Linked DNA regions of Homo sapiens. The protein of the gene in region 1 purifies or fractionates together with the protein of each later gene. This does not show direct contact. Each region holds a gene or a part of one and is shown on either strand. Other genes may lie near its edges.

What was found.
Region 2: the proteins of PSMG3 (region 1) and PSMG2 purify together in Homo sapiens (affinity purification with mass spectrometry; 6 studies listed by BioGRID and IntAct, with this or other methods). This does not show direct contact.
Region 3: the proteins of PSMG3 (region 1) and PSMA5 purify together in Homo sapiens (co-immunoprecipitation; 4 studies listed by BioGRID and IntAct, with this or other methods). This does not show direct contact.

What each region holds. Positions count from the first base shown.
Region 1 is NC_000007.14:1,566,770-1,574,962, forward strand, and holds PSMG3 (proteasome assembly chaperone 3), read right to left. Parts: upstream 3,264-8,193; 5' UTR 2,571-3,263; coding exon 2,355-2,570; intron 1,082-2,354; coding exon 929-1,081; 3' UTR 563-928; downstream 1-562. UniProt on the Homo sapiens protein: Chaperone protein which promotes assembly of the 20S proteasome. May cooperate with PSMG1-PSMG2 heterodimers to orchestrate the correct assembly of proteasomes.
Region 2 is NC_000018.10:12,698,227-12,706,041, reverse strand, and holds the start of PSMG2 (proteasome assembly chaperone 2), read right to left. Parts: upstream 3,001-7,815; 5' UTR 2,935-3,000; coding exon 2,878-2,934; intron 1-2,877. Other genes in the region: CEP76 (centrosomal protein of 76 kDa), read left to right, coding at 3,494-3,556, 4,929-5,084, 6,137-6,212, 6,839-7,063. UniProt on the Homo sapiens protein: Chaperone protein which promotes assembly of the 20S proteasome as part of a heterodimer with PSMG1.
Region 3 is NC_000001.11:109,409,449-109,416,448, forward strand, and holds part of PSMA5 (proteasome subunit alpha type-5), read right to left. Parts: intron 5,916-7,000; coding exon 5,789-5,915; intron 3,688-5,788; coding exon 3,620-3,687; intron 2,737-3,619; coding exon 2,629-2,736; intron 2,488-2,628; coding exon 2,429-2,487; intron 1,666-2,428; coding exon 1,563-1,665; intron 567-1,562; coding exon 480-566; intron 1-479. UniProt on the Homo sapiens protein: Component of the 20S core proteasome complex involved in the proteolytic degradation of most intracellular proteins. This complex plays numerous essential roles within the cell by associating with different regulatory particles.

The DNA.
Region 1 (8,193 bases):
AGAGCCAGGCGGGGCCCAGGCTGCCACTTATCAGGGCTGTAAATGCCACCCTGAGGCCCACGCCTGCCAACACTGCTCCCCACAAGACTAAGTCCTGCAGCCTCAGCCCAGAAGGACCCGCGCCTACCCCCACACGGAGGTCATGTTCAGCCACACCCCAGTGAACCCTGGCGACCCACCCCACAGTGCCCTGCCCTCCCGTGCTCCTCTCTCCTGACCTCTGTGCACGCTGCTCCCTTGACAGAAGCGTCCCCCCTCCCTTGCTATGCAGGATTCAGAGGACAGCGTCTGTCCCCAGCTGCAGCACGGTAACGGGCACACACATTAAGATAGTAAGAGATGTCCGCTGACGGCCACCAGCTTCCCAGCAGGCTCAGAGAAGTTACTGGAGTTGGAGCTGGGTGACAGCGTGCACAGGCCCAAGCATGGGATCCACCCAGTTCCTGGGAACTACGTCCCTCTGCGTTTCTGCCCAACAAGCTTCCCTTCATGAAGCCCATGAAACTGAACTCATGCTGTGCGGCTGCAATGTCTCGCTACTGTTAAGGAGGACAGTGAAGTATTTTGGGATACACATTCGCTTTTAATAAAAAAGAAATTTCCTCCTACAATTGATCCTGCACACGGGGGGGCCATGAGCCACGCCTGCTGACTCATTCCTCCAATTCTCAAACACAAGCAACGATTCAGGTCCTGGTGAGAACCATTCACGACTCCTCCGGGACCTGTTCCACCCTCCCCGTCATGCACAGATGATCTTAGTAACCAGAGTAAGAGTCTGCCTGAGACACGAGTCTTTTTTCCTGGCTCCAAGGGCTAGTGCCAAAGTTCCTCCCTCCACCGGGGAGGGAGGTGAGACTTGAGTCCCTGAGTGGGTGTCTGGGTGTTCACGTGTCCTGCTGAGCAGCGCGGGGCGGCTGCCTCCAGGTCACCACACCTGGCACACCCGGATCACCTCCCTCAGCGCCTTCAGCCCCTCCATGCTTTTGTCCTTCACGGCCACGGCGAGGAGGACTGCTCTGTTTCCAGCTTCTTGAGACACAAACGCTACCAGGTTCTTTGCAAAGACATGGATGAGAGGCTGGTAAAGGAAGGAGAAGAAACCATTTTAACTGCAAGAAACCTGGTTTTTTCCTCAATGCTTTCATGAAGTATCCCTTAGGAACCCAGGCAGGCTTCCCACACCACCATTAACCGCCACATAAGTCCATGCAACTGTGACTCAGAGTTCTGGCAGCACTCAGAACACTCCAGTCACGGGCACACTGCTAAAGACCATCACTCCATTCATTTTCCCAGCGCCTTCCGCAGCCCCGCCTCTTCTGGCTCTCTCTCATCTAAAAGAACCCAGGAAAGAGAAGCCTGCAGAAGCGAGTGCTGTCGAATCTCACGTGTGATCTCCACAGAGCACAGCACAGCCAGCCGCCTGCTCACGTAATGTACCATGGCAGGGGAGGCGGCTCGAATGACAAAACTGCTGCTTCTGCTTGTCTGCTGGATAAAATGCCTGCGGGCTGGACAAAGCATCCACTGAGGGCAAGCAGGGCGCCTTGAGACCCACAAATGCCCGGAAAATGCTATCGCTGTAGGGGTATTTGTCCGCCAGATGCCCCATGTCCTTACTGACAAATCACAGCCACTGGAGAGGTTTATGCTCCTCCCTGGGGGTCCCTTCCTGACCACTTTATTATTATTATTATTATTATTATTATTAAAGACAGAGTCTTGCTCTCTCACCCAGGCTGGAGCGCAGTGGCACAATCATGGCTCACTGCAGCCTCAACCTCCAGGGCTCAAGCCATCCTCCCACCTCAGCCTCCCAAGTAGCTGGGAGCACAGGCACACACCACTAGGCCCAGCTAATTTTTTGTTTCCTTTTCTTTTCCTTTTTTTTTTAAGACCAAGTCTCTATCTGTTACCCAGGCTGGAGTGCTGTGGCACGATCTTAGCTCACTGCAACCTCCGCCTCTCGGGTTCAAGCGATTCTTCTGCCTCAGCCTCCTGAGTAGCTGAGATTACAGGCATGTGCCACCACACCCAGCTAATTTTTATATTTTTCGTAGAAATGGGGTTTCCCCATGTTGGCCAGGCTGGTCTGGAACTTCTGACCTTAAGTGATCTGCCCGCCTCAGCCTCCCAAAGTGCTGGGATTACAGGTGTGAGCCACTGCACCCAGCCTCTCTCTATATATATATTTTGTGTAGGCACTTGTTTTTTTGTAGTGACTTGTGTGTGTGTTGTTGTGTTGCCCAGGCTGGTTTCAAACTCCTGGCCTCAAGCGATCTGCCCGCCTAGGCCTCTGAAAGTGCTAGGGTTACAGGCGTGAGCCACAGTTCCCGGCCAATCCACTTTACCTCATCCTGCCCCAGAAGGACTTTTGTGGTGAGCACAGGCTTGCTGACGTCACTGGCCACGCTGCTGGGCTCCAGGGAGACCAGGGTGCCCATCTTCCCAAACTGGGTCACCACCACCAGGATGTGACTGCTGAAGGCCGTACACACCACCTGGGTGGGGACCCCGCACACCACCTCCGTCTTCTGCTTCGATATCACCAACGGCGTGTCTTCCATGGCGGGGCTCTGCAGTGGCAGCTTTAATTTAGGTTAAAAAGAAAGGGGAAAAAAAGGAGTCAATCAAACAGTACAGCCTTGGGGCTCCCAAAAAAGTAGCACGGGGCATTGAAACGGAAACGCAAGGAGGCCCATTCAAAAGAAGGGGCCAGGCGCGGTGGCTCATGCCTGTCATCCCGGCACTTTGGGAGGCCGAGACAGGACGATCGTTGAGGCCAGGAATTCGAGACCAGCCTGGCCAACATAGCGAGACCCCCATCTCTACCAAAAAAAAAAAAAAAAAAAACCAGCAGGGCGCGCCTGTGGTCCCAGTTACTCAGGAGGCTGAGGCGGGAAGATCGCTTCAGCCCGGGAGGTCGAGGCTGCGGTGAGCCGTGATCACACCATTGCATTACAACCCGGGCGGTAGAGCGAGACCCTGTCCGTAAAAAAATAAAACAGAAGCAGGAGCGGGGCCGCCCATAGAGACCGCGCCTGGGGCTTTCTGGGTTAGGGGATCGACTTGCACGTTCACACTGCCAGGCCGGGCAGTGGCTTCCCGCCCCTCGGCCTCGCCGCCGCCCCGGCCCTGCAGCCGCGGCCCGGGACCCCCACGACACGCGGTGCCGAGGCCGGCCGGGCTACTGGGGACGCAGCCGCCCGGGGAAGCCCGCGGGTACCCGCGCTCACCAAGCCGGCGCCGCGCCCGGAAGTGGCTCTGCGTGCGCCACGCGGGCCCGCCCCGTCCGCGGGTTCCGTCCACCTTCCGGAAGTCAGGGCCGCGGCGCTTCTGGTCCCGGAGACTTGGGGCTCCCGGGCTTCTGAGCGGCTCGGGTTCCGCGCTGCCGGCAGGGCTTGGGGGCGCCTTAGAGCCGAACCCCGTTTTTTCAGGAAAGGGCGCTGCGACCACCCCCGTCCCGGGCCTCAGCCCCTCTGCTGCAGACCCTCGGGATCGTCGCTGGTAGGAGCTCTGTCCCCCGTGTCTGTGTCCAGGACCCCCGAAGCGCCGCGCCTAGGAACCCCCTAGCGCTGGGAGCCCGGCCCTGCTCGACCACGGGCTTTGGGCTGGAGGCGTCATCGTCGCCACAGCGAACGCTTATTTGGCACCGAGTGTCCGCCAGGCATCGCTCTAAGCGCTTTATACCCATAACTCACTTCATCTCAGCCACCCGGTTCCGTAGAAGCGTTTCATCCGCGTTTTACAGACGTGTGCAGGTGCAGAGAGCTCGGCCAGGCTCAGGCGGCGGGCGGGCTGGGGTGGGCTCCGACCGTCCCTCGGGCGCTCCGTGACACGAAGCCCCGGCCAAGGCCAAGAAGGGGGCCAGCCCCACCCTGAAGCGGGATGAGTTCTGGTTCCTCCCAGGGACCCCCTCACTCCCTACTGCTCACTCTCAGTTTCTCCAAGCTGGAAGGTTTTTTGTTTTGTTTTGTTTGAGACGGAGTCTTGCTGTGTCACCCAGGCTGGAGTGCAGTGGCGCGATCTCGGCTCACTGCAGCCTCCGCCTCCCTGGTTCAAGCAATTCTCCTGCCTCAGCCTCCTGTGTAGCTGGGATTACAGGCGTGCGCCACCAGGCCCGGCTAACTTTTTAAATTTTTAGTAGAGATGGGGTTTCACCATGTCGGTCAGGCTGGTCTTGAACTCCTGACCTCAGGTGATCTGCCTTCCTCGGCCTCCCAAAGTGCTGGGATTACAGGCGTGAGCCACCGCGCCCCGCTGCTGGAAGTTTTATTGGTAGGGTCGGACATCTTGGTAGCAGAGGCTGAAAGTGATTGGAGCCTCCAGAGCCTTCCTCGGGGTGGGGCGTTTAACATCCCTTCAGAACCCCACCCTCGGAGGCCTTACTGTCGTTTCCTGACAACCATGTCAAGGCCGTATTTTCTGTCTATATTACCAGAAAGGGGTCCCGATCCAGACCCCAAGAGAGAATTGAGGGCGAGTCCACAAAGTGAAAGCAAGTTTATTAGAAAAGTAAAGGAATTGAGGCAGGAAAACAGGGTCTGGAGGCAGGGAACACTTCAGCTATGACAGGAAATACCCTCTCCATAGGGTGTACACTGAGTAAATGATTTTGTAACTTTATTTCATCCTCTTTATTTACATAGGGCGTACACCAAGTAACCAGTAGAAACCCCTAGAGGGTATTTAAACCTCACAAGTTCTGTAATGGGGCCCTGAGCCTCTATGCTTTGGCCGCCCCCACACCATGGAATGTACTTTCATTTTCAAAAAATTTCTGCTTTTGTTGCTTCATTCTTTTTTTGCTTTGTGCATTTTTTTTTTTTTGAGACAGAGTCTCTGTTGTCCATGCTGGAGTGCAGTGGCGTGATCCTCACTGCAACCTCTGCCTCCCGGGTTCAAGCAATTCTCCTGCCTCAGCCTCCTGAGTAGCTGAGATTACAGACGTGCGTCACCATGCCCGGCTAACTTTTGTGTTTTTAGTAGAGACGAGGTTTCGCCATGTTGGCCAGGCTGGTCTTGAACTCCTGACCTCAGGTGATCTGCCCGCCTCGGCCTCCCAAAGTGCTGGGATTATAGGTGTGAGCCACCGCGCCCGGTGGCTTTGTGCATTTTGTCCAATTCTTTGTTCAAGATGCCAAGAACCTGGACACCCTCCACCAGTAACAGAATAAAGAATGGCTACTCCATAGGCAGAGCAGCATGGGCTGCTGGTTGCCCATTTTTGTGGTTATTTCTTGATGATATGCTAAACAAGGGGTGGATTATTCGTGCCTTACCTTTTTAAACCCTTTAGGGTAACGTCCTGGCATTGCTATGGCATTTGTAAACTTACGGCGCTGGTGGGAGTGTAGCAGCTGGGACGACCAGAGGTCACACTCATCGCCATGTTGGTTTGGTGGGTTTTGGTCAGCTTCTTTACTGCAAACTGTTTTATCAGTAAGGTCTTTATGACCTGTAGCTTGTGCCGACCTCTTATCTCATCCTGTGACATAGAATGCCTTAACTGTCTGGGAATGCAGCCCAGCAGATCTCAGCCTCATTTTACCCAGCCCCTATTCAAGATGAAGTTGCTCTGGTTCAAACACCTCTGACATTTACACCACTGAAGCTCCAAGGAAGATCTTGACTCCCTCTTCTCACCATTTGATGACTTCGTATCCAATCCAAGTCAAGTCAAATGAAGCATGCTCCTTCCAATGATGATTTCTGGAGGCCTAAAATAAAAAGCATGCATACAGAAAATGATCAAAATAGACATAAATCAAGGGGAAATTCATTTTTGAGCATTCTTGCAGCCAGTACACAAAAGGAGAGATGATGAGTTTCATGGTTCTAATACTCAAAAAACAGGAAGCATATCAACTTCCCAGGAAAGTCTAAGTTTCTGTCGGCTCTAAATTTAAACACACATCCACCCACACATACCCCACAAGCAAATTGCCAGTGGATTGCTTTGCCATCTGAAATCTTCAAAAGGTTCACTCGCTTTTATTCACCTGTTTGTGTATTCTCCCTCTCTGTAGGCAAATAGATACAAGAAATCTGATCCTGTCCTCTCAAAGAAAACCCTCTGAAATAAACTTATCACCTTTAAAAAAGGGATGTTGAAGAACAAGATGGATTTTTGTTGTTGTTGTCGTTTTTTGAGATGGAGTCTCGCTCTTGTCGTCCAGGCCGGAATGCGGTGGTGCGATCTCGGCTCACTGCAACCTCCGCCTCCCAGGTTTAAGCGATTCCCCTACCTCAGCCTCATGAGTAGCTAGGATTATAGGCACCTGCCACCACGCCCGGCTAATTTTTGTATTTTTAGTAGAGACTGGGTTTCGCCATGTTGGCCAGGCTGGTCTCAATCTCCTGACCTCAGGTGATCTGCCCGCCTCGGCCTCCCAAAGTGCTGGGATTACAGACGTGAGCACCCAGCCTGGATGTTGTTTTTGATGACACTGCTAAGCACTTATGTGAGGGATTGTTTGGGTGGTTTGGGTCTAGATCTAAGATAAAGACAGTAGGAAAGAAATGAGAGGTGGAAGGTTGTCCTAGGCTGAGGTGGTGGTCCAGGGACTTTCTGGCAGCCTGGATGGATGCCTGGGCAGAATTTATATATCTAGAAGAATGGAAGAGGACCTCATTGCATGCCATTGACTGTTCTCCAGTACCCAAGGGTAAAGGAACTGGAAAGAAAGACTCACTCAAGTGCATTCACATAAAATGGGAATCTAATAGTAATGGTGCCAATTGTGGGGCAAAGAGTTCAAGGAGTTATTTTGAAAAATGAAAAAAAAAGCAAAGTATCTTAAATTTGTCTTATATTCAATAAATTGTCGGTGATAATGCTATGGTGTGTGCATTTGTAGAACCAACAAAGACTTAGTCAAGTGCCGATTTGGTAGGATTGTAATTTTTCCGACAAATTGTATGATCGCTACACACGTTATCCTTCCCATTGTGTGTGATTTTCCCAGCTCCAGGATGAAGAGGATTGGTTTTACAAAAATGGGCAAGGACACCATCAATTTCCCCACAAGTCTCTCTCTCTCTCTTTTTTTTTTTTTTTTTTTTAGACAGAATTTCACTGTGTCGCTAGGCTGGAGTGCAGTGGCAAGATCTTGGCTCACTGCAATCTCCACCCTCCAGGTTCAAGCGATTCTCCTGCCTCAGCCTCCTGAGTAGCTGGGATTACAGGCACCCACCACCACGCCTGGCTAATTTTTGCATTTTTAGTAGCGACGAGGTTTCACCATGTTGGCCAGGCTGGTCTTGATCTCTTGACCTTGCGACCCGCCCGCCTTGGCCTCCCAAACTGCTGGGATTACAGGCGTGAGCCACCGCACCTGGCCACGTCTCTCTTCATCGTTTAATAGTCTCACCCTTTCTTGTTGAAGGACCATCCGGCCATTAGCCATGGGCGTGGCCTCACTCTCAGCCGCCTGACTGTGTAGCTTTGCCAGGGCCTCCCACACTGACCCACTGCTTTGGTCTCCATCTGAGCATCCCTGGCATCCCATTTGTGGGCTTCCTGAAACCGTTTTTTTTTTTTTTTTTTTTTTTTGAGATGGAGTTTTGCTCTTGTTGCCCAAGCTGGAGTGTAATGGTGCAATCTCGGCTCATTACAACCTCCGCCTCCCAGGTTCAAACAATTCTCCTGCCTCAGCCTCCCAAGTAGCTGGAATTACAGGCATGCACCACCACGCCTGGCTAATTTTGTGTTTTTAGTAGAGATGGAGTCTCTCTATGTTGGTCAGGCTGGTCACGAACTCCTGACAGGTGATCCGCCCACCTTGGCCTCCCAAAGTGTTGGGATTACAGGCGTGAGGCACTGTGCCTGGCCTAGATTCCTGAAACCTTATGTCTCTTGGAAGATAGACGGTTTGGCTTTGCAGCTGATGTGCTTTGTATTTCCACAGCCTCACGACACGCTCTCCCATCCTCTCAACAGGAAAGATTCTGAAGCTTGGCGGAGAGGGGTGTGTGAGTGGACACCAGTGAAGTAACGGTTTTTGTGTTACGATGATTTCTGTTTTCCTCTGCTGCCCTGTAATGGCAGGAACTCGGATAGTCTGGTCTTCAGACCAGGAGGACTCCCAGGTATGGCAAATCTTAGATTAGGTAAAACTTTAGGCATCAGAATCAACCTCCTTGGCTGTTAATTTTGAGCAACTTGCCTCAGTTTCTCAGCTTAAAAAT
Region 2 (7,815 bases), on another chromosome or scaffold:
AATGCCTACTATATGTCAATTGTTGCTCTAGGCACTGGGAATGCAGTAAAATAAACCAACAAAAGTTCATGCCCTCATGGAACTTCCATTCCAGTGAGAGTGGTTTACCTGTAATAAACAAAACAAACACTAAAATATACAGTGGTAATTGCTACGGAGAAAAATAAAGTGAGTGTGAGGATGTGTGTACATGGTTGATTGCAATTTTAAGTAGAGTGTTCGAGGAAAGACTCACCCTAGGTGACAAATGACTAGAGACCTGAAAAAGGTAAAGGAGACAGCCGTACAGAGATCTGGGAAAGAACATTCCAGGCAGTGGGAAAGCAAGTGTAAAGGCTTCGAGGTATGAACAGAAGCACTCTTGGGTCTGCTTACCATTTGCTTTATTAGTGCCTCTTTACCCATTCCGAAAGGTTGAAGTGATCTTTTCACACTAAACACACACACACACACACACACACACACTCTCTCTCTCTCTCTCTCTCTCTCTCTCTCTTTTTCCCATGACTTAAAATAATGAAGCTGCCAAATCCCTACCTACATCCCAGAACACGTAGGAGCTCCACAACCTAATGGACGTCTCCACATGGTTAGGTCACAGGAAACTCACATTCCACATGTCCAAAACTATAAACTTTTGCCCAAATTTTTCCCCATATTTTGTATTTTAGAAAAGGGCGCCGGGCATGGTGTCTCATGCCTGTAATCCCAGCACTTTGGGAGGCCGAGGCAGGTGGATCACCTGAGGTTAGGAGTTTGAGACCAGCCTGGCCTACATGGTGAAACCCTGTCTCTACCAAAAATACAAAATTAGCTGGGCGTGGTGGTGCATGCCTATAATCCCAGCTACTCGGGAGGCAGAGGCAGGAGAATCACTTGAACCCAGGAGGCAGAGGTTGCAGTGAGCCAAGATCGTGCCATTGCACTCCAGACTGGGCAAAAAAGAGCAAAACTCCATCTCAAAAAAAAAAAAAAGTTCAATATTATTCAATCTACCTAAACTTCTTCCCATTCCCTTACCAACTACATCTAATACATGCCTAATTTTTATTGAGGCTATCCCCCAAGTATCCTTTTAATGTAGCTCCTCCTTTGCATTCTTCCAACAACTCCTTTTGTTTTCTGTCCTTCGGGTGTTCCCTCAGCATGTTCTCCCACTTTTCACTGTTGTCACCTACCAATTGCCTAGTTACCTCCTGCAATTCCCTTCTCAACGATTTTGCTACTTGGGTTAAACTCTTCTGTACCATCCTTCTTTTCCTCACAATATTGTATTATTCCCATCAGCACGTAAACATGCTCTAATATCTTTCATTCTAAAAGGCTCTCCCTTGACCCCACATAGCCCTCTAACTGCAACCTCATTTCTTGTTTCTCTATGTAGCAAAAATTCTCCAAGTCGTCCACGAAAACATAAGCAGAAACTTTATCTCTTATTAAAAAAAAGTTTTTTGAGACAGGGTCTCACTCTGTCGCCCAGGCTGGAGTGCAGTGGCACGATTTCAGCTCACTGCAGCCTCTGCTTCCTGGGCTCAAGTGATCCTCCCACCTCAGCTTCCCGAGTAGCTGAGATACAGGTGCAGGAAACCACACCTGGCTAATTTTTATTTATTTTTTTGTAGAGATGAGGTATCACTATGTCGCCCAGGCTGGTCTTGAACTCCTGAGCTCAAGCGATCCTCCTGTACTCGGCCTTCTAAAGTGCTGGGATTACAGGCATGAGCCATCATGCCTGTCTCTGAATTAATGACTGAATATATATTATACAACCCAAATCTTTAACTTGTTTTCTATCATTCATTCAACCCACTCCAATATGGCTTTCCTCTTCACCACTTCACTGGTAACTGTTTGTCCAGGTGACCATCATTAACATGTCGCTAAATCCAAACATACACTTTCTTCACCTTACACATCTCTGGGCTACTTTTGACATGGCCACTCCCTCCTTTTTGAAACACTCTTCTCTGGGGCTGTGTGTTTTATATGTAATGAATAAGGATGACACTTCCAGCTCTCTCCAGCCTTATACCACTCCAAACAGTGCATTTTCCAATGGTGCCTTCTGGGTTCACAGGGCCTACAGCCTATTCTCTCTCAATGTGTCATTCCAAATTCTTGGCAGTCTTCAAGTCCCCCTGCTTACTGACTCTGTTTTAGACATCCATCTTTCTGAAACGCCTACTTTCCCCTACTCCCAGCCCACGGGCCCTCCATCTTTTGCATACTACTTTCTCTATAAAGCCTTTCTTAACAAGCCATCTGTCCCTCCCCTCCCAATTATCTCAGGACCTTTCTATACCCTTTCAAGCTTCTAGCCTAGCATTTATTGCTCTTAGATTACATGTTTCCAACTACAGTGTAAATTCTTTGAGGGCACGCACCTAGTCTTATTCTAATACTCGCACATAACAGACTTTATTAAAACAATGAATGAATATAAAGAGCGATAAAACTGCGCTAACTACCGGCAAGAGTTAATGTTTATTGCCCTATCAGTAGTTCTCCGGTTAACAACGATAATATGCTAGCTTAAGACTAATTCTAAAACTAGTCGTAGAAAGACTTTCTAGGATAAAACTGAAGGATGCCCTGCAAAACATAAGTACAGTGTATCTAGAACGTACGAACACATCACGTTTTACAGGAAACAGAGACTACAAATTGTAGACTTGACTACGTTTGGTTTTACAGCCGACAAAGGTTCTGTTTGGACGGCTGCCTCCGGCTACAACCTCCCTGTTTTTTCCGGCCGAAAACATGAAATAGAAACTAGTGCCCTATTTCTCCCAAGGCACCGCCAAACACCCCGCGTCGGGGTGGCGACACCGCAGGGGCCTCGGGAGGCGGCAGCCCCGAGCGCAAATGGAGACTCACCATTAGGAGGGTGAAGCCGGCAAGGTCGGGGGCCGACTCCCCGCAGGGAACGAACATGGTCGCAGTGGGGTGGCCAGCAGGGACTAACCGCGGCCCTGGCAAGAACGAGGGCAGCAAGAAGGCGGAAGCCCGAGACCCCGGAGCCTCGCGGGGCGCGGGAGGGTCCTTTGAGTCCCTGGGCGCCGGGCCCTTGAGGCCCGTCCAGCTAACTGCCGGTTCAGAGGGCGGAAAGAGGCCGCCGGGTGGCCGCGAAGAGGGGCCAGCAGCGCTTTCGGAGACCCTGGCAAGCAAGGCGATGGGGTGCGCTGAGGTCTCGGGGTGCGGGGCCCGCGGGGAGGTGGAGCGGCGGGCGGAAACGATCAGGCAGCGTGCGGGCCAGCCCCAAGCCCTGTTTGTCCGCCACTGTTTGAAAACAGTTGGCGCCGCCGCCGCCGGGGCCTCATTTCCAGGTCAGCCCCCGGCCTGACGCGGCGTTGCGTCCCCCGGGAGCTGCGCTAGGCGAACGGCTGCGGCGCTTTGTGCTCCAGTCGCTCCTAACGCTCCCTGGCCCGGCCGGGGCCGCGCAGTTAGGGCATCTGAGGCGGGGAGAAGCGGCGGGGAGACGCCGGCTGCCAGCATGTCGCTGCCTCCGGAGAAAGCCTCCGAGCTGAAGCAGCTCATCCACCAGCAGCTGAGCAAGGTGAGAGTCGCGGGTGCTGGGAGAGACCGCCGGGCCGACCCATAACCTTTCCCTCCTGCCCGGCGGCCCCGGGCCGACAGCGGCATCTGCTTGCCGGGACTGTAGCGAGGATTGTGGGGTGCGCAACGCAGAGTAGGCAGAGCTTTGAGTTTGAGGCAGGAGAGCGTCCTCGTCTCCGAGAAAGAAAACGAGCCGAGCAGGTGCTAGCAAGAGTCTGGGGCGATAGAACGAGCGGTCTTGGCGTTTTAGGACGGCCGTGAGAATGAAGCGCTTAGCGAGCGACTTCTGGAAGTCGGATCGAGTGTAAGTTGTATTTGGAGGTTTATATTCTGCTGTAAGATATCAGGTTTTTTTTCTTTCTTGAGACGGAGTCTCTCTGTTGCCCAGGCTGGAGTGCAGTGGCACGATCTCGGCTCACTGCAACCTCCGCCTCCCAGGTTTAAGCGATTCTCCGCCTCAGCCTCCCGAGTAGCTGGGATTACAGGCGCGCGCCACCACGCTCGGCTAATTTTTGTATTTTTAGTAGAGACGGTTTCACCATGTTGGTGTGGCTGGTCCCGAACTCCTGACTTCGTGATCCGGCCGCCTCGGCCTCCTAAAGTGCTGGGATTACAGGCGTGAGCCTCCGCGCCCGGCAGATATCAGGGTTTCTTTACCGCTGAAACATGTGGGTATCAGCGAAGTTGAACCAGGAGCTTCAATCAGCAATTCTCAAATAAGTCATGGAAGAGAAGTTACTAAAGGGTTTGTAATGACGGAATTTGTTAATATTTCGGAGCTCCAGAAGAACCTCCAGTTTCTGCAGCGCTCGCTCGACTGAGTGCAAGATGCTGAAGTGATAAAAGCGACCATTTATGGTGCCCTTGTGTGCCAGGCTTTGTGCTGTCTAGTATCTTTAATCCTCACAACACTATCGTGAGAGGGCACTACACTAGGTTTTTCCATTCTTATCGGTGACGAAACAGATTTATAAAGGGTAAATAAGTTGGCTTGAGGTTACACATCTACTAAGTTGAAAGCTGGTAAGATTCCCTTATCATTAGGCAGATCAAAGTATGAAAGTAATAAGATCATACTTTGATCTGCCTACTCCCAGTCCGTGTTCTTCTGATTATACTATACTCCCTCTCAGAAGATTCCTTTTGGTTGAGTGTTGTTTGTGGAGAAATGGTAACAAAGGTGCCAGATAACCAGTGGAGACTATTTCTAGAATTTGTACTCAAAAGATTCATTCTTTAAAAGCTTACCTTTGTTCCCATTCAATTGTGGTAACAATTGTGCATTTACTGTTAGCTGGAGAACCTTAAAACTTCAGAAGCAGTATTTGACTGCTTTGTGATGTTATAAATTGTAATATGAGTTTTCTACATAGATGGATGTCCATGGTAGAATAAGAGAAATCCTTGCTGAGACTATACGGGAAGAATTGGCACCTGATCAACAGCATTTATCAACAGAAGATTTGATCAAAGCCCTTAGACGTCGAGGAATCATTGACGATGTGATGAAAGAACTTAATTTTGTTACTGTGAGTAATCTTTTAGGGAAATAAATGAGAGTATATATGTATATACTAATGCGTAACACTACTTATAAGGTTCCGATGTGGGGCCTTTCGTTTTAGTAAAACCACTTCAAGGTCATTCTGTTTACTAGTGTCCTTGTTTCAAGTATAGGCTAGCTCTGCCCTTGAATATACTGAATAGTTTTGTGTATCAATGAAATTTGTGTTAGATATCTTATTCCTGTCTCTACAGTGACAGAATTTTCTCTTATTTTCTAGGTCTGTAAATTTGAATATACATACTTTAGTCCAATTAGTTCACCATAACAAAGTTCTTTTTCATTATGATCTGTAACTTTTTTAGATTAAGCGTATTTTTAAAATAAGCACTCTTTTGGGATTATATTCTCTATGATTAACAAATTACAAATTTCTTTAAGAAAATAATTGACTGCATAAGAGTCCTCAAATCTTTTAATACAAATAGGTCAATAATGGGATGATAGTCTCTCAGTGCACAATTAGTAAGTAGGCCTTCATTTGAAAGTGAGGCAATAATGGAAACTGTGACCTCAATACCTGGGTAATATAATGTGAAAATTGGATGGACTTCATAATACAATAGGGAATAAGTATTTTAATACAGCACCTTTTTTTGGTTTTTGAAGTTTATGAACCCGTTTGTTATAAAAATTGACCTAATAACAGCTTCTACTCTGTGATGACACTTTATTAAAATCAGCTCATAGTGGAATTATAAGCCAACTGTTACATAAGGTTTACAGAAAGTTTAACCTTGTTGAAGGTATTAAGGATTTGTTTTTAGCTTTATGTGGATAGTATTACTTGAAGACAGTTTAATTCCTTAGCATTTGATTTTAGGAGTGATCAGTTTACATCATCTTTTATGCAGGCTTTTATTTTCATTATTTTAATTAGGCTAGGAAAATAAGGGGTTCTTTGAAAGGGCCTTACCCTGTTGACTTTAGGTTCAGTGCTTAGTCATGTTTATTGACATTTCCTTAACCTATAATTGTTTTCTAATTTGTTTTGATTTTTTTTTCCTGCCTTTCTAGGACAGTGTTGAGCAAGAACTCCCTTCCTCTCCAAAACAACCTATTTGTTTTGATAGACAATCGACATTAAAAAAAAGTATGTATATTTTAACATTAATTTAGTTGTGGTTAATAGTAAATATTGATGTGGTGTAGTCTTTCGTATTTGATAGAAGACATTTCCATTTTTTCCCCCCAAAATAAAATACTTAAAATTTTATGGTTGGCTAAAACAGATTGTTTTGCATGAAGTATATCAGAAGAGTTAATGTATAGCACGGTAGAAGCAAAAACAGCATCACCAGTTTCTTGTGTTTTAATAATATGTTTTATAAAAACTGTACAGCCTTGCTTTTAAATATTAATATAATTGACAAATACACTTGCTGAATTGATAATTATATGAGTTGGTTTGTGAAGGTGGAGGAATGTTGGATAAGCAGTTAAAAAGCAAAAGTATACTACATATTGGCTCTGATGCCTTTTCCAGCTGGGAGAAAGTAGCCTGGATGTAAACTCAGAAAAGAATATCATATTTTGTGTATCTTCTCCCCAGAGTGCAAATGATTCTGGCATATACAGTAATAAATTTGTTACTCTTTTGCTTTTTTTTTAGTCTTTGGTATTGGGTTTTTATCTGTCAAGTTTTTATTTCCTAATGTCTTGATCACATTCTTTTAAGTTATTTGGCAGTTTCCTCATATATATTGCTACACTTTACAGCTAATATTGATCCAACACGGAGGTATCTTTACCTTCAGGTTTTGGGTGGAAAAGCTTTCTTGGAACATCTGCAAGAACCTGAGCCTTTACCTGGACAAGTTTGTTCAACGTTTACTTTATGTTTACATTATCGAAACCAACGTTTTCGTTCTAAACCTGTTCCATGTGCCTGTGAACCAGATTTTCATGATGGCTTTTTACTTGAAGTACACAGAGAAAGCTTGGGTAAGAAACAGTAATAAATTGTCATTTAATTGAGTAAATCTTTGTTATGTTTTATTGTGAAACAATAATAATGACTTTTTCTGTAAGGAGAGATTTATAATGGAGGAATCTCTATTTTGTTTCCCACTGCTCTTTTCAATTTAAACTACTATCCACCTTCTTGCAATATTCTGTTTGCTATTCATTTTCCCTGGATATTATTTTTTGACTGTTTTCATTGTTGATTCTTTAGTAATACACACTTAAATACCTATTATGTGCATAGTGTTATGCTAGGCAGGTGCTGGGATGATATAGTGGAAAATGAGACATGGTCCTTCTCATTTATAAAATATAACCAGATTGATGATGTTATGTAACTTTTAAAAGTCGAAGTTTAGGCTGAGCACGGTGACTCACAGCTGAAATCCCAACACTTTGGGAGGTCTAGGTGAGAGAATCATTTGAAGCCAGGAGTTCAAGACAAGTCTGGGCAAAGTGAGACATTGTCTCTACAAAAAATAAAAAATAGGCTGGGTGTGGTGGCTCATGCCTGTAATCCCAGCACTTTGGGAGGCCAAGGCAGGTGGGTCACCTGAGGTCAGGAGTTTGAGACCAGCCTAGCCAACATGTCGAAACCCTGTCTCTACTAGAAATACAAAATTTCTAGCCGGGCATGGTGGCAGGCGCGTGTAATGAGCCGAGATCACCCCATTGCACTCCAGCCTGGGCAACAGAGTGAGACTCTGTTTAAATAAATAAATAAATGAATA
Region 3 (7,000 bases), on another chromosome or scaffold:
GCCAGGCCTCATTCTTTAACTCACTGAATTCTGGCTTCTGCCAGCACCACTTTACTGAAGCTGCTTATTATTCAAAGGCTGTTAATAATTTCTTAGGAACTAAACATACAAAAATGTCATTTCCATGATCTATGTAGTCTTCAGCAATGCCAGCTATGATATCTGAATAAAAAACAATAAAACAGCCAGGTGCAGTGGCTCTCACCTATAGTCCCAGGTACTCAGTAGGCTGAGGCAGGAGAATTGCCTGAGGCCAGGAGTTTAAGACCAGTCTGGGCAACACAGCAAGACCCCATCTCTAAAAAAATTAAAAAACATTAACCAGGCATGGTGTGTGCACCTGTAGTCCCAGCTACTCGAGAGGCTGGGGTGGGAGGACTACTTGAACTCATGAGTTCAAGACCAGTCTAGGCAATATAGCCAGACCTCATCTCTTAAAAAAAAAACCGAAAAAAATCCAACAATAAAACAGAAAGTACCTCAATGTTTGTTGCATTCAGCTTCTCCTCCATTACTTGTTTGAGGATGATGAGTGAAGACTTGATGGCTTCTTTCAAAGTCATAGACTTGAAACAAAGAAGGCAAGAAGATGCCTATTAATTATGCACAATCCGTCCTTCCTTCAAAGATTTTCCCTTTATCTCACTGAAAAAAGTATTTAGCAAGTATGTCAAACATCTTACTTAGTATGGTGCATTACAAGTATCTCCAGAACTCAAGTAAATGGCAAATAAGTAGAATACATTTTTTCAGGAAAAAAAACCCCCAAACCTTATTGTGAGCCACAATAAAGTCACCAACCAAAGTAATCTTTGAAGAAGGGGAAAGGGATAGACTAGTCTTGTGTACATTTGAATTCCTCTTTTAATTTAGAAGATAATATTATTGGTAATATCCAATGAACAATAATGCCCAAATGATCTAAGAGGTAGCCCAATGGTTTAGAAAATTCAAATTTACCCTGTTTTGTACCTAATTTCTTCCACATGTAAAAGCAATACCATTAGGAGCTAATGTGAGCAGGCATCCCTGTATGAACCACCTGAATAAGTAGAGCAGCCTTCAATCACACCAATGAGTTACCCAAAACCAAATCTTCCCATCTCACAAAGAAAATACCAAATGCCCACTTGCTTCAAGAGCCAATTGTAAAGTGCTAAGTAAAGCTGTGAATATAGAGGATAAACATATTGTGGTACATCCATACCATGGTATATTACTCAGCCATCAAACGGAAATACTGGAACAACATGAATGGATCTCAAAAACAGTGTGTTAAACAAAACAGATACAAACTGACTAACTGTTTAATTCCATTTATAACAAAGCACAACAGACAAAACTAATGGAGAGTGGTAAACATGGTGGTAAACATGGTTGCAAGGGAGGGAAAGAGATTGACTGGAATGTGGATGAGCATTTTTCTGGTGGTGATGAAAGTGTTATTTATCTTGTTTTGCAATTGTCAAAACAGAACTGAACTCTTAAGGTTTGCACATTTTATTATATGTAAATTATACCATGATAAAAAAATAGTAAGAGTTGTGAGAATACTTAATTACCTTGTGGTAAACTTCTTGCAAGGAGCTCTGGGCACCCTCTGAAGCAGAGCCAATTGCTCGAGCATCACACTGTACAAAGGTCCCAGATGGGTCCATATGAAACCTGCAAAACCCCCAAAATGAGGACTAAAATGCTCAGGAGTGGTGGCACTTTATGTAACAAACGTCTCACTAAAACAAAGTATAAATGCTTGGCCCTGCAGCCAGGAAACACCACTGAAATATTGAGGCACAGATCTAAAAGATGTTCTATGTCTGGAGAAACCAGACATTTTAAAAACTGTTTAAGAAAATTAGTACCTTCCTTAGGGATTTAGAAGTATAGTATGTATAAATATGGTACTTGTTTATGCCTATCTTAGAAATATTTGAGGATGAGGATCAGATCAACATTCCAGAGCAAAGTTCTAAAACATACCCTGACTATAGTAACAAGTTACTTCTAATTCCTTCCAGAATTAGCACTGGTTCCAATAGGGGAATTCTTCATGGAATCCCCAAATTTGTGCAAACGGTATAGAATCACTAAACTTTAGTATTAGAAGCCATATATATGTATATACATACACACACACACACTCTACAATAGCCCTTTTTACAATAATCTTTTTTTAATGTATTTTTTAAAGAGATGGGGTCTGGCTCTGTTATCCAGGCTGGAGTGCAGTGGCATGATCATAGCTCACTACAGCCTGGATAACAACTCCCAGGCTCAAGAGATCCTCCTGCCTTAGCCTTCAAGTAGCTGGGACTACAGGTGTGTGCTAATACCTGGCTAACAGTCTACAATAATCTTCTCAGTCTCCACCCCAAATTAAAATAATTCCCTGCAAAAGCATGGGGGAAAATTACAAAATGGTACTTACAGCTGGGGTCCTTTCTCATCAACTCCTCCAAATAATAATGCTACTCCAAAGGGACGAGACTAGAACCAAAAAATAAGAGATATTAAGATAAATGGCTATAAAGTAAGGAGGTGAGAGGGGCTGGGAATGTTATGTTCACAGGACAAATGTCCTAAGTCCCATAGAACAATAAGAAAACTCGACAGAAGTATCACACTCACCATGGCACCTGGATCTGCATCTTCTTCTCCAAACTGCAAAGCCAGATTGGACACAGCTTGGGTCACACTCTCCACTGTCATTGTCTCATTGTAGGTGAACCAGTGGTTCTAGAAGAAGAGCAAAGCATGGTACAACCTTCTAATAAGGACATTAAAGCAGCCCACCATCTCACTACGCACATCCCTTTAAACTGGGATTGAAAACTGAAGGCTCAAATGTGGTTTTCTTAATTAACATTAACCCTGAGTACTTGGGAGTACATGAGAGGAAGAGAAATAGCTCTGGAAATAAACATATCACAAGGACTCTACGCAACGACGGACAAGAGAATTACTGCCTTGAAAAAGAGGGTTATGCCTCAAAGCACCAAGTTTACTCTTTCAAAAACTAAAAGTGCCTCTTTCCCTCAAAGACTCTAGCTTATTCTGTTGATGTTCAAATGACTTATTCTTACATAAGTACAGACAGCAAACTTGCAAATAAGTACAAAAAATTTTACCATGTGATGTATTTTTCTTACTAGCCTATCTTCAAGCAGCAGCTACAAAGTTTAAAAAAAAAAAAAACAGTATCCCTGACCAGTATTTGTCAGTTGGTACAAGTTATTACTCACCAAAGGCGGGCTGTTATTTACAAGCCTGGCAGCAAAGGCAGCTGAGGGGAGAATATCCTTTAACTACGTCCACCTCCTGCCATGATGCTCCCACACAAAGTCAATTAGGAAACAATGCATGCTTTATATATAGGCAAAGCCAAAAAAAAAAGGAAGACACTGTCAGCACTACTGACCAGAGCCTCTTTAAAACTGCAATGATTGGACAGCTAAACTCCAAGCCCCAGGAAGTTCTAACTGGGAATTCTACCCAAAATTACTCCCAAGAGCCACATCTAATATTGACACAGGTACCTGCAGTATAGCCCAGGCAGCTAGATAATCACTAAACAAGGAACTCAAGCATCCTGGTAAAAAGGAGATAATGCCAATTTTACCTGTGTCTCCACTCTGGCTTTATCAATTAAAGTCTTAGCATCAGCAATTAGCCCACTCATGGCACAACCTGCAATGTAAAAGCGACAGTGACCCAGTGGCCAAATCCTTGTAAAACTCTTTCATCCACTCAGGAAATCCTGAAATTCTGGATTGGAACCACGGCAGCCATTCAGCTATCCCATGGCATTTTATACCCAAAAGATTAGATAGGAAATGATCTGCACTGAACCCAAGTATTAATGATATTAGAAACAAAAAACCATCCACAATGACACAGAAGTCCAGACGATAAAAATAAGCCCAGAGAAAAGCAGCTAACCAAACATGAATTTCCACATATTACATCCCTAAGCATCCCTTTAGCACTCTTTGTAGACGATGATACATTTTCAAACGAAGCAAATACTAATGCCCCAACCTGGGAAACAAGGAAAAGAAAATCACCTCACTATGGACTACAGTGGAGGACTCTCGAATAAATCAAAAGCCTTTTGCCTCTCTGTCCCAAACACAAAGCAACTAGTTATATCAGAGAGAGTTTGCCTGATGGCCCAAGCTGTCACGATTATGGCTATAACTGTTATTGTACATGCCATGGCTCAAATCTAAATCTCCAGCCTAAGTTTCTCTCCCAAGTTTCAGACATATAAAGCCAAATAACTTCCTTAATATATCTACTTGGACATATCACACACTCATTTCCCTTCCAGACCCCGTCTTCTTCCTTGGCCCTCACAATCAATCAGATCACAAGTTCTGTCAATTTCTATCTTCCTCTCCATTCTCTGGCTACTGTGTTGGTTAAAACCTTCACCATCTCTTTGTTTGGACTATTACAAATTTTTCAACTGGCCTCCGTGCCTCCAGTTTCAGCCCTCTTTAGTCTATCTTTAATATCATTATCAGAATGGCCTTTCTAAAATTATAATGGGATCCTATTACCTCATTGCTTAAAACCTTTCCCATCCTTGCAAAAGGATTACATTGAAGCCCTTCAGTGTGGTAAAAAAGGAATTCCGCTCTCTGACCGACTCTGCTGCTGCAGTTCATGGCCCAGGCCTACAAAACTGCTTGTGACATGGTATTTTATATTTTACACCACGATGGCTTCAGTCATTTCTATTCCCCCTGACTAGAATGCTCTCCCTTGCTATACCCAGACACTTGTTTGCCTTGTGTACACTTCCTTATCTTTCAGAATTAAACTCAGCTCAAAATCACTTTCATGGAATCCTTTTCTGAAAGCCCCACTACCGCTGACTCCAGGCAAAACTAATTATTTCTTCCCTTGTACTCCTACTAAGAACACACTAGTCTTTCTTAATACTTTTGTCACTTAATTGCATTGACTTACTTACATGTCCACCACCACAATTAGACTGTATGCTCCTGTAAAACAAGGACTATGTCTTATTCCTTTCTATATCCTGGTATCTAGCATAAGGTCTGGCACATTGTAGGCTCTCAATTTGTTGAACACAGTGACACTGAGCTACCTTCAAAAGACCAAGTGACTTGAGTTAAAGAAGACACAATGTTCCAATCTTAAAAGATAAAATTTCAGTTTCTATATCTATGAAAGACATAATATCAAGCTCCCAGAGTCACCATGGCATTTGGTTCTGATGCCTTCAAGCAATTAATTATTTTGCCAATGCTTCATTAATTAGATGACTAGACAGGTTAAGAAAATTTGGATAGCCAAATAAAATGCCATTCTATAAATAAGTAGAATTACTCACCCTGTAATACTATTATACAATGATGTCAGAAGCCAAGGCAGGGGAATTAAAGACCAAAAAAGTGGGCAGAGGCAACAAGGAATACAAAGATAATCTGAAAACAAAGGAGGAAGACTGATCTAGGCAAGTCTATATTATTCTTATAACTTGTAGTCACTTCAAAGATCTCAACCTTTGCATATTTCAACAACCATCACATTTACCAAGTCTAAATTTGAGGGGAAAGGAACTTATGGGAGTAGGTTAAACATAAATGAGTCCTGCAACAGCCTCCTACTCCTACATTTACGCATTCTGGCCTACTGCCTGGAAAATAATAGCTAACAAGGGGATAACGTGTTCATTTCATAAACCTTCCTTGGAACATCATAGAGGACTAATTAACCCAGACCAGATCCTACAGAACAGCTTTCCTCCACTCCTTACCTATGTGAGCATCAATCTCTACAATTTTCTCAATGCTGCTGGGCTCCATCAGTGGGGAAGTAATTCTCTTCTCCACAGCTAGGCACACACCCTCTGATGTCTGGATCCCAATGGCTGTAGAACCAAGCTAAAGAGAAACATGTTATGATTACCATATATAGGTCAAATAACTGTCTTACATACTCACCAGATAGCTCTCTGTAAATCTTCACATGATAGAAACTTCAACTGGCCACATCTTATAGGCAGAGAGAAGGAGCACCCTAACATACTGTAAGTAATTAATATACTATTCCTGTCAATAGCAAGAACATTGATTTACAGAATTTTGTGATTCTAAAAAGTTCTTTTTTCTCCCTTAAATTTTTTTAAAATTTTTAATGTTTTCTTTATAATTTACCCATGTAATTCCCAGAACCCCAAAAGAGTAAGTTCAACAAAGTCTTTCAAACACTGGAAAAATCCACTCTCTAATGCCAATATTTGGAGGACGGAGGATTCAAAAGTTCTAAACATAGTGGGCAAGAAAGTAATAAAACTCTTAATGTCTTCTCTGGACCTGGCCTCTTTTCACCTCTGCCATCTACCTTGGTCTGTCCCAAGAGGTGATGATATTCCCCAACCTACCTGACCTCCAAAAAAGTAATAAAGGAAGGTAGGGAGGGACGAAAAGAACCACCACCATCATCACCACCAACAACGTAAAACTATTAATTATTTAAGGTCGCTAGAAGTCCACAATATACCTGGAATTCATCTCTATCTCTACGTAACTCCCAGTCATCTACTCCTCTATGCCCATTTCCTGCAAAATGAGGATGACAATAATAATAAGAAGGGTAAACACATTATATATTATAAAATGCTTAAAATGGTGCCTGCCAAATATGAACAAATGTTATTCATATTCCATGCCTAGATACTTCAATAGCCTCTCTCATCTTTAATCTCTCTCAATGTATCTCTAATGTTATAACCTGACTGATCTAATAAAATGCTATTATCATTATATTTCTTCTCTCAAGAATTAACATCACCCTATACTGCCTATAATATATCCAAATAAACTTCCAGAGCCTTCATATCCTGATGCCACTTTTCCCTTCCAACTTCACTACTCGTTATTCTCCAACAAAATCCCTCAGGTATAGCCCAGCCCACTGGCTCAAGCCACGTTATCTCCTACCCTTGCACCCCTCTGCTCATGCTGTC